2 linked regions of the Homo sapiens genome follow. The protein of the gene in region 2 purifies or fractionates together with the protein of the main gene of each other region. This does not show direct contact. Each region holds a gene or a part of one and is shown on either strand. Other genes may lie near its edges.

The links. The genes of interacting proteins can lie anywhere in the genome.
Region 1: the proteins of SLITRK6 (region 2) and PLEKHH3 purify together in Homo sapiens (affinity purification with mass spectrometry; one large-scale study listed by BioGRID and IntAct). This does not show direct contact.

The regions. Positions count from the first base shown.
Region 1 is NC_000017.11:42,670,705-42,673,994, reverse strand, and holds part of PLEKHH3 (pleckstrin homology domain-containing family H member 3 isoform 1 precursor), read left to right. Parts: coding exon 1-61; intron 62-160; coding exon 161-352; intron 353-438; coding exon 439-596; intron 597-698; coding exon 699-819; intron 820-1,602; coding exon 1,603-1,909; intron 1,910-2,436; coding exon 2,437-2,644; intron 2,645-2,864; coding exon 2,865-3,001; intron 3,002-3,289; coding exon 3,290-3,290.
Region 2 is NC_000013.11:85,792,290-85,796,419, reverse strand, and holds the end of SLITRK6 (SLIT and NTRK-like protein 6 precursor), read left to right. Parts: coding exon 1-2,437; 3' UTR 2,438-3,630; downstream 3,631-4,130. UniProt on the Homo sapiens protein: Regulator of neurite outgrowth required for normal hearing and vision.

The DNA of each region.
Region 1 (3,290 bases), on a different chromosome or scaffold from region 2:
ACTTGGAGCCTCATCCCGGAGAAAGGGCTGCCGGAGGACGACCCGGACATCGTTGTGAAAGGTAGAGACCCCCCTCAGTGCACTCTGGAGGCCCCCAATCCCAACCCCCTAGGGATTAATGTCTCTACTGATGTCCCTTCCCTCCCTCTCCGGCCCCCAGGTTGGCTGTACCGGGAGCCCCGCGGAGGAGGGGCGCGGCCCTGGCTGCCCCCGCGCCGAGCCTGGTTTGTGCTCACGCGGGACTCCCTGGATCAGTTCAGCAGCAGCGGGAAAGGGGCGCGGCGTCTCGGGAGCCTCGTGCTCACCAGCCTGTGCTCGGTGACCGGCCCAGAGCGCAGGCGTAAGGAGACAGGTGAGACCTCCTGGGGACTCTCCTACCTTCCTAGGCAGGGGCCCCGGCAGACCCTAATGGCCCTCCCTGGCCTCTCTTTTCCCCAGGTCTGTGGTCAGTGACTGTGTCTGGTCGGAAACACAGTGTCCGCCTCTGCTCCCCACGCCAGGCAGAGGCTGAGCGCTGGGGGGTGGCATTGCGGGAAGTGATCGCCTCCAAGGCACCCCTGGAGACCCCCACCCAGCTACTGCTCAGGGACATACAGGTACACACCAGGGAGAGCCAGGAGAGTGGTGGACCCCAAAGCTTTCTGGGGTTGTGAGGAACTCCCTTCCCCATCAAGGTGACCCTCTCCCTGGCCCCCTAGGAAAGTTGCGGGGACCCAGAGGCCGTTGCCCTCATTTACCTGAGGAACCCGATTCTGAGACACACTAGTGGAGCCTTGTATGCCCCACTCCTGCCCCTGCCCTATGGAGTCAGCGCCCCAGGTGAGTGGTCCCATGGCCCAAGTCCCCTGGATGGGATGGGGTGGTTCAGAGGTAAGAATCTGAATCCCTTAACTGGCAGGGATCTAAGCATCCTTCATGGACCTGCCAGCTCCTCACTTTTCGAAGGATGAAGGTGAAACTGGAAGCTGGCCAGGGTGGAGGAGAGGAAGCCAGCACACACAAAAGGGCCCCCTTTGGCCACCTTCTCTATGGGTCTCATTCTGACTACTGATGTTCCTTCAGGAGTTTGTACACTCCCCTATTTTTTCATTATCCTCTTGAGACTATGCCATATTACCTTTACAAGTGGTAGAAAAGCTACCACTTTTGTAGAATGTGCTGGCCTCATCCAACTGTACTTCTCCCTAAACGGTGTAGTGACTGGCCCAGGTCCTAAAGTTAGAGGATTAAAGGGTGCTGGGAGAGGAACCCCGGTTTTCTGACTCCTAGTCCAGCCTGTTTTCTGACCTATGGTGGTGAGCCTCAGTATGGAGTTACAGAATCTGGGGTGTGAATCTACAGCCCTTCCCGGCCGTCCGTCTCCCTAAGTCCAAATGCAGGCTTAGTGGGATTGGGAAGGGGATTCCTGGGAGGCAGAGGTTGAGAGTCTGGCTCCGTGGGACCACTGCTTTCCCTTCACTCTTCCTGTCGTTCGTACCCTCCCCTCCCTGCCACCCCATCCCCTTATATTCCCTCTGACCTTCCCCTGGTTCATGCCTTCCTCCCAGGGCGCAGCTCTGTGTCCCCTCTCCAAACCGTCCCTCCGCCCCCACCCTCCCACAGGTCCGGGCTATGCACCCCTGCGCGAGGAGGCGGTGCGGCTGTTCTTGGCGCTGCAGGCGCTGGAGGGGGCGCGGCGCCCCGGGCCCTTGATGCAGGGTGTGCTCCAAACCTGCCGGGACTTGCCCGCGCTCCGGGATGAACTCTTCCTGCAGCTGGCTAAGCAGACCTCGGGCCCTGCAGGTCCCCCCGGGCTCCCGGCTACCCAAGACCCTGCGGCCCTGCGGTACTGGCAACTCCTCACCTGCATGAGCTGCACCTTCCGACCTGGGGGAGCTGTGCGGGGGCACCTCCTGGGGCACTTGGAGAGGTGAGAGGGGCGAGGTGGGGGTTACGGCCTAGGCGAGGAGCTACCGGGCTGGGAGAGAATGAAAGGTCTTTTGCAAAAGACTTGGTAGGTAAAGAACCGAGTAATACATACAGTGCCTTTGTGGGAGATACAAGATCCTATCGCAGTTGTGAGCGGATGAATTACAATAAAACGCCCCCCTTGGGCTGAGGAGTTATGAAAAGGCTGCTTTTCCTCCAGCTGATGCAGGCCAGCGCCAGGGCTTAGGAAAATGTAGTAAAGTGGCTGGATTTCGATTTCAGGCCGAAGGAAGATCACGAAGACTTTTGGAAGTGGTGGAGGCAGTTGGGAGAAAGCTGCCAGGGGACTTGAAAAGTAATTCAGCTCTATGCAAAGCACTGGGGAGAGATTTAGAAGAGCCTTCAAAGAACTTGAGTTGGGGCGGGGAGGAAATCGGCTAGATAAAATAAACTATAAGAGAAGCAGGCAAGAGGGAGGGGGAGAAGAAAGCCCTTGGAGTATTGATCCCTGGGTTCCTCCTAACCCAGGACCGAGCAGGCACTCCCGGACTCGGAACTGGCGGAATATGCGCGCTTCATCCGGAAAGCGCTGGGCCGGACGCGCGGCAGAGAGCTGGTGCCCTCGCTGGCGGAGATTTCCGCGTTGAGCCAACGGCAGGAGCTGCTGTGTACCGTGCACTGTCCGGGGGCTGGTGCCTGTGCTGTGGCCATCGACTCCCACACCACGGCGGGGGAGGTGAGGCCAGAGAAAGGCCCCATGACCTCCAACCCACCCTGCCAGCTTCTCACGCCTGTCTCTCCCTCTTCCTGGACCCTAGGTTTGCCCCGAGTCTAGATTATTTTGGTAAGGGAGGGAGTGGTGGTGACAGGACTAAGAGACCCCTTCCAATTGAATCAACCCCTCCCAGAATCCTGGCAAGACCTCTGAGTGGTCTCCCCTCACCCTCCTCTTCTAGGTGGCTCGAGAGCTGGTGGGGCGGCTGGGCTTGGCCCGGAGCCGCAACGCATTCGCGCTGTACGAGCAGCGAGGGGCCCAGGAGCGAGCCCTGGCTGGGGGGACCCTCGTGGCCGACGTGCTCACCAGGTTTGAGAAGTAAATGTCCAGCCCCAGCCCTGCTCTCTATTAGCCCATCCACTTCTCAGCTGAGGTCAGTCTCTAAGCGGACATTATCCAGCGCTTGCCCCTGGCCCTGCGCTGTGGTGTTCGCTGGTTTACAGACGGACCTGCCCGCCGCAGGTTTGCAGTCCGACTGCAGCATCACCTCCGCTGTCGGCTCCGCCCAGGCCCCGCCCCAAACACATGGCCCCGCCCCCACCCCAAGCTGCCCTCGCCGTAGGGGTCCGGCTTCTCCCTAGCGCTTCGTCCGCTCCTCTTCTGCAGC
Region 2 (4,130 bases):
TTGTGATTCTCTTTGCAATTGTGAGGAAAAAGATGGCACAATGCTAATAAATTGTGAAGCAAAAGGTATCAAGATGGTATCTGAAATAAGTGTGCCACCATCACGACCTTTCCAACTAAGCTTATTAAATAACGGCTTGACGATGCTTCACACAAATGACTTTTCTGGGCTTACCAATGCTATTTCAATACACCTTGGATTTAACAATATTGCAGATATTGAGATAGGTGCATTTAATGGCCTTGGCCTCCTGAAACAACTTCATATCAATCACAATTCTTTAGAAATTCTTAAAGAGGATACTTTCCATGGACTGGAAAACCTGGAATTCCTGCAAGCAGATAACAATTTTATCACAGTGATTGAACCAAGTGCCTTTAGCAAGCTCAACAGACTCAAAGTGTTAATTTTAAATGACAATGCTATTGAGAGTCTTCCTCCAAACATCTTCCGATTTGTTCCTTTAACCCATCTAGATCTTCGTGGAAATCAATTACAAACATTGCCTTATGTTGGTTTTCTCGAACACATTGGCCGAATATTGGATCTTCAGTTGGAGGACAACAAATGGGCCTGCAATTGTGACTTATTGCAGTTAAAAACTTGGTTGGAGAACATGCCTCCACAGTCTATAATTGGTGATGTTGTCTGCAACAGCCCTCCATTTTTTAAAGGAAGTATACTCAGTAGACTAAAGAAGGAATCTATTTGCCCTACTCCACCAGTGTATGAAGAACATGAGGATCCTTCAGGATCATTACATCTGGCAGCAACATCTTCAATAAATGATAGTCGCATGTCAACTAAGACCACGTCCATTCTAAAACTACCCACCAAAGCACCAGGTTTGATACCTTATATTACAAAGCCATCCACTCAACTTCCAGGACCTTACTGCCCTATTCCTTGTAACTGCAAAGTCCTATCCCCATCAGGACTTCTAATACATTGTCAGGAGCGCAACATTGAAAGCTTATCAGATCTGAGACCTCCTCCGCAAAATCCTAGAAAGCTCATTCTAGCGGGAAATATTATTCACAGTTTAATGAAGTCTGATCTAGTGGAATATTTCACTTTGGAAATGCTTCACTTGGGAAACAATCGTATTGAAGTTCTTGAAGAAGGATCGTTTATGAACCTAACGAGATTACAAAAACTCTATCTAAATGGTAACCACCTGACCAAATTAAGTAAAGGCATGTTCCTTGGTCTCCATAATCTTGAATACTTATATCTTGAATACAATGCCATTAAGGAAATACTGCCAGGAACCTTTAATCCAATGCCTAAACTTAAAGTCCTGTATTTAAATAACAACCTCCTCCAAGTTTTACCACCACATATTTTTTCAGGGGTTCCTCTAACTAAGGTAAATCTTAAAACAAACCAGTTTACCCATCTACCTGTAAGTAATATTTTGGATGATCTTGATTTGCTAACCCAGATTGACCTTGAGGATAACCCCTGGGACTGCTCCTGTGACCTGGTTGGACTGCAGCAATGGATACAAAAGTTAAGCAAGAACACAGTGACAGATGACATCCTCTGCACTTCCCCCGGGCATCTCGACAAAAAGGAATTGAAAGCCCTAAATAGTGAAATTCTCTGTCCAGGTTTAGTAAATAACCCATCCATGCCAACACAGACTAGTTACCTTATGGTCACCACTCCTGCAACAACAACAAATACGGCTGATACTATTTTACGATCTCTTACGGACGCTGTGCCACTGTCTGTTCTAATATTGGGACTTCTGATTATGTTCATCACTATTGTTTTCTGTGCTGCAGGGATAGTGGTTCTTGTTCTTCACCGCAGGAGAAGATACAAAAAGAAACAAGTAGATGAGCAAATGAGAGACAACAGTCCTGTGCATCTTCAGTACAGCATGTATGGCCATAAAACCACTCATCACACTACTGAAAGACCCTCTGCCTCACTCTATGAACAGCACATGGTGAGCCCCATGGTTCATGTCTATAGAAGTCCATCCTTTGGTCCAAAGCATCTGGAAGAGGAAGAAGAGAGGAATGAGAAAGAAGGAAGTGATGCAAAACATCTCCAAAGAAGTCTTTTGGAACAGGAAAATCATTCACCACTCACAGGGTCAAATATGAAATACAAAACCACGAACCAATCAACAGAATTTTTATCCTTCCAAGATGCCAGCTCATTGTACAGAAACATTTTAGAAAAAGAAAGGGAACTTCAGCAACTGGGAATCACAGAATACCTAAGGAAAAACATTGCTCAGCTCCAGCCTGATATGGAGGCACATTATCCTGGAGCCCACGAAGAGCTGAAGTTAATGGAAACATTAATGTACTCACGTCCAAGGAAGGTATTAGTGGAACAGACAAAAAATGAGTATTTTGAACTTAAAGCTAATTTACATGCTGAACCTGACTATTTAGAAGTCCTGGAGCAGCAAACATAGATGGAGAGTTTGAGGGCTTTCGCAGAAATGCTGTGATTCTGTTTTAAGTCCATACCTTGTAAATAAGTGCCTTACGTGAGTGTGTCATCAATCAGAACCTAAGCACAGCAGTAAACTATGGGGAAAAAAAAAGAAGAAGAAAAAGAAACTCAGGGATCACTGGGAGAAGCCATGGCATTATCTTCAGGCAATTTAGTCTGTCCCAAATAAAATAAATCCTTGCATGTAAATCATTCAAGGATTATAGTAATATTTCATATACTGAAAAGTGTCTCATAGGAGTCCTCTTGCACATCTAAAAAGGCTGAACATTTAAGTATCCCGAATTTTCTTGAATTGCTTTCCCTATAGATTAATTACAATTGGATTTCATCATTTAAAAACCATACTTGTATATGTAGTTATAATATGTAAGGAATACATTGTTTATAACCAGTATGTACTTCAAAAATGTGTATTGTCAAACATACCTAACTTTCTTGCAATAAATGCAAAAGAAACTGGAACTTGACAATTATAAATAGTAATAGTGAAGAAAAAATAGAAAGGTTGCAATTATATAGGCCATGGGTGGCTCAAAACTTTGAACATTTGAGCTTAAACAAATGCCACTCTCATGCATTCTAAATTAAAAAGTTAAAATGATTAATAGTTCAGGTGGAAGAAATAAGCATACTTTTTGGGTTTTCTACACATTTTGTGTAGACAATTTTAATGTCAGTGCTGCTGTGAACTAAAGTATGTCATTTATGCTCAAAGTTTAATTCTTCTTCTTGGGATATTTTAAAAATGCTACTGAGATTCTGCTGTAAATATGACTAGAGAATATATTGGGTTTGCTTTATTTCATAGGCTTAATTCTTTGTAAATCTGAATGACCATAATAGAAATACATTTCTTGTGGCAAGTAATTCACAGTTGTAAAGTAAATAGGAAAAATTATTTTATTTTTATTGATGTACATTGATAGATGCCATAAATCAGTAGCAAAAGGCACTTCTAAAGGTAAGTGGTTTAAGTTGCCTCAAGAGAGGGACAATGTAGCTTTATTTTACAAGAAGGCATAGTTAGATTTCTATGAAATATTTATTCTGTACAGTTTTATATAGTTTTGGTTCACAAAAGTAATTATTCTTGGGTGCCTTTCAAGAAAATTAAAAATACTACTCACTACAATAAAACTAAAATGAAAACTCTTTTTTAAATGTGCTTTCTTAAATGCACGACAAGCTTTACTTGTCATGCAATCAAGTAAGGATTAACACACATACACACAAACATACAGACACACACACACACACACTGCAGGAGGTTTCTATTTGTTGTTTACACACAGAAGTATCTTGTTCATGTTGTGAAAAAGACTATTTGATTTTTGGTATGCTTAACAGGGAGCCAAATTTAAAGTATGTCTAGCAGTTTTCCCTTTCAAGCAAATCATTTTCTAATGCAACGTAAAAGGAAATGTTTTATTTCTATCGTTTCTAATTATAGAATCAATCATACCTGCACACTTTCACAAGGCAAAGTGAAATTAGTCAAGGTAATCTGGGAATGTTTTCTGAACACCACACAGAGTCATGTACTGGGCTATGAAGGAACACATTTTCCATAAGGAAGTACTCCCTTCAATTTACTCCACAATATTTCAGTGATTCTTAAATGGTCTATTAAATATTTTGGCTTTTAATAT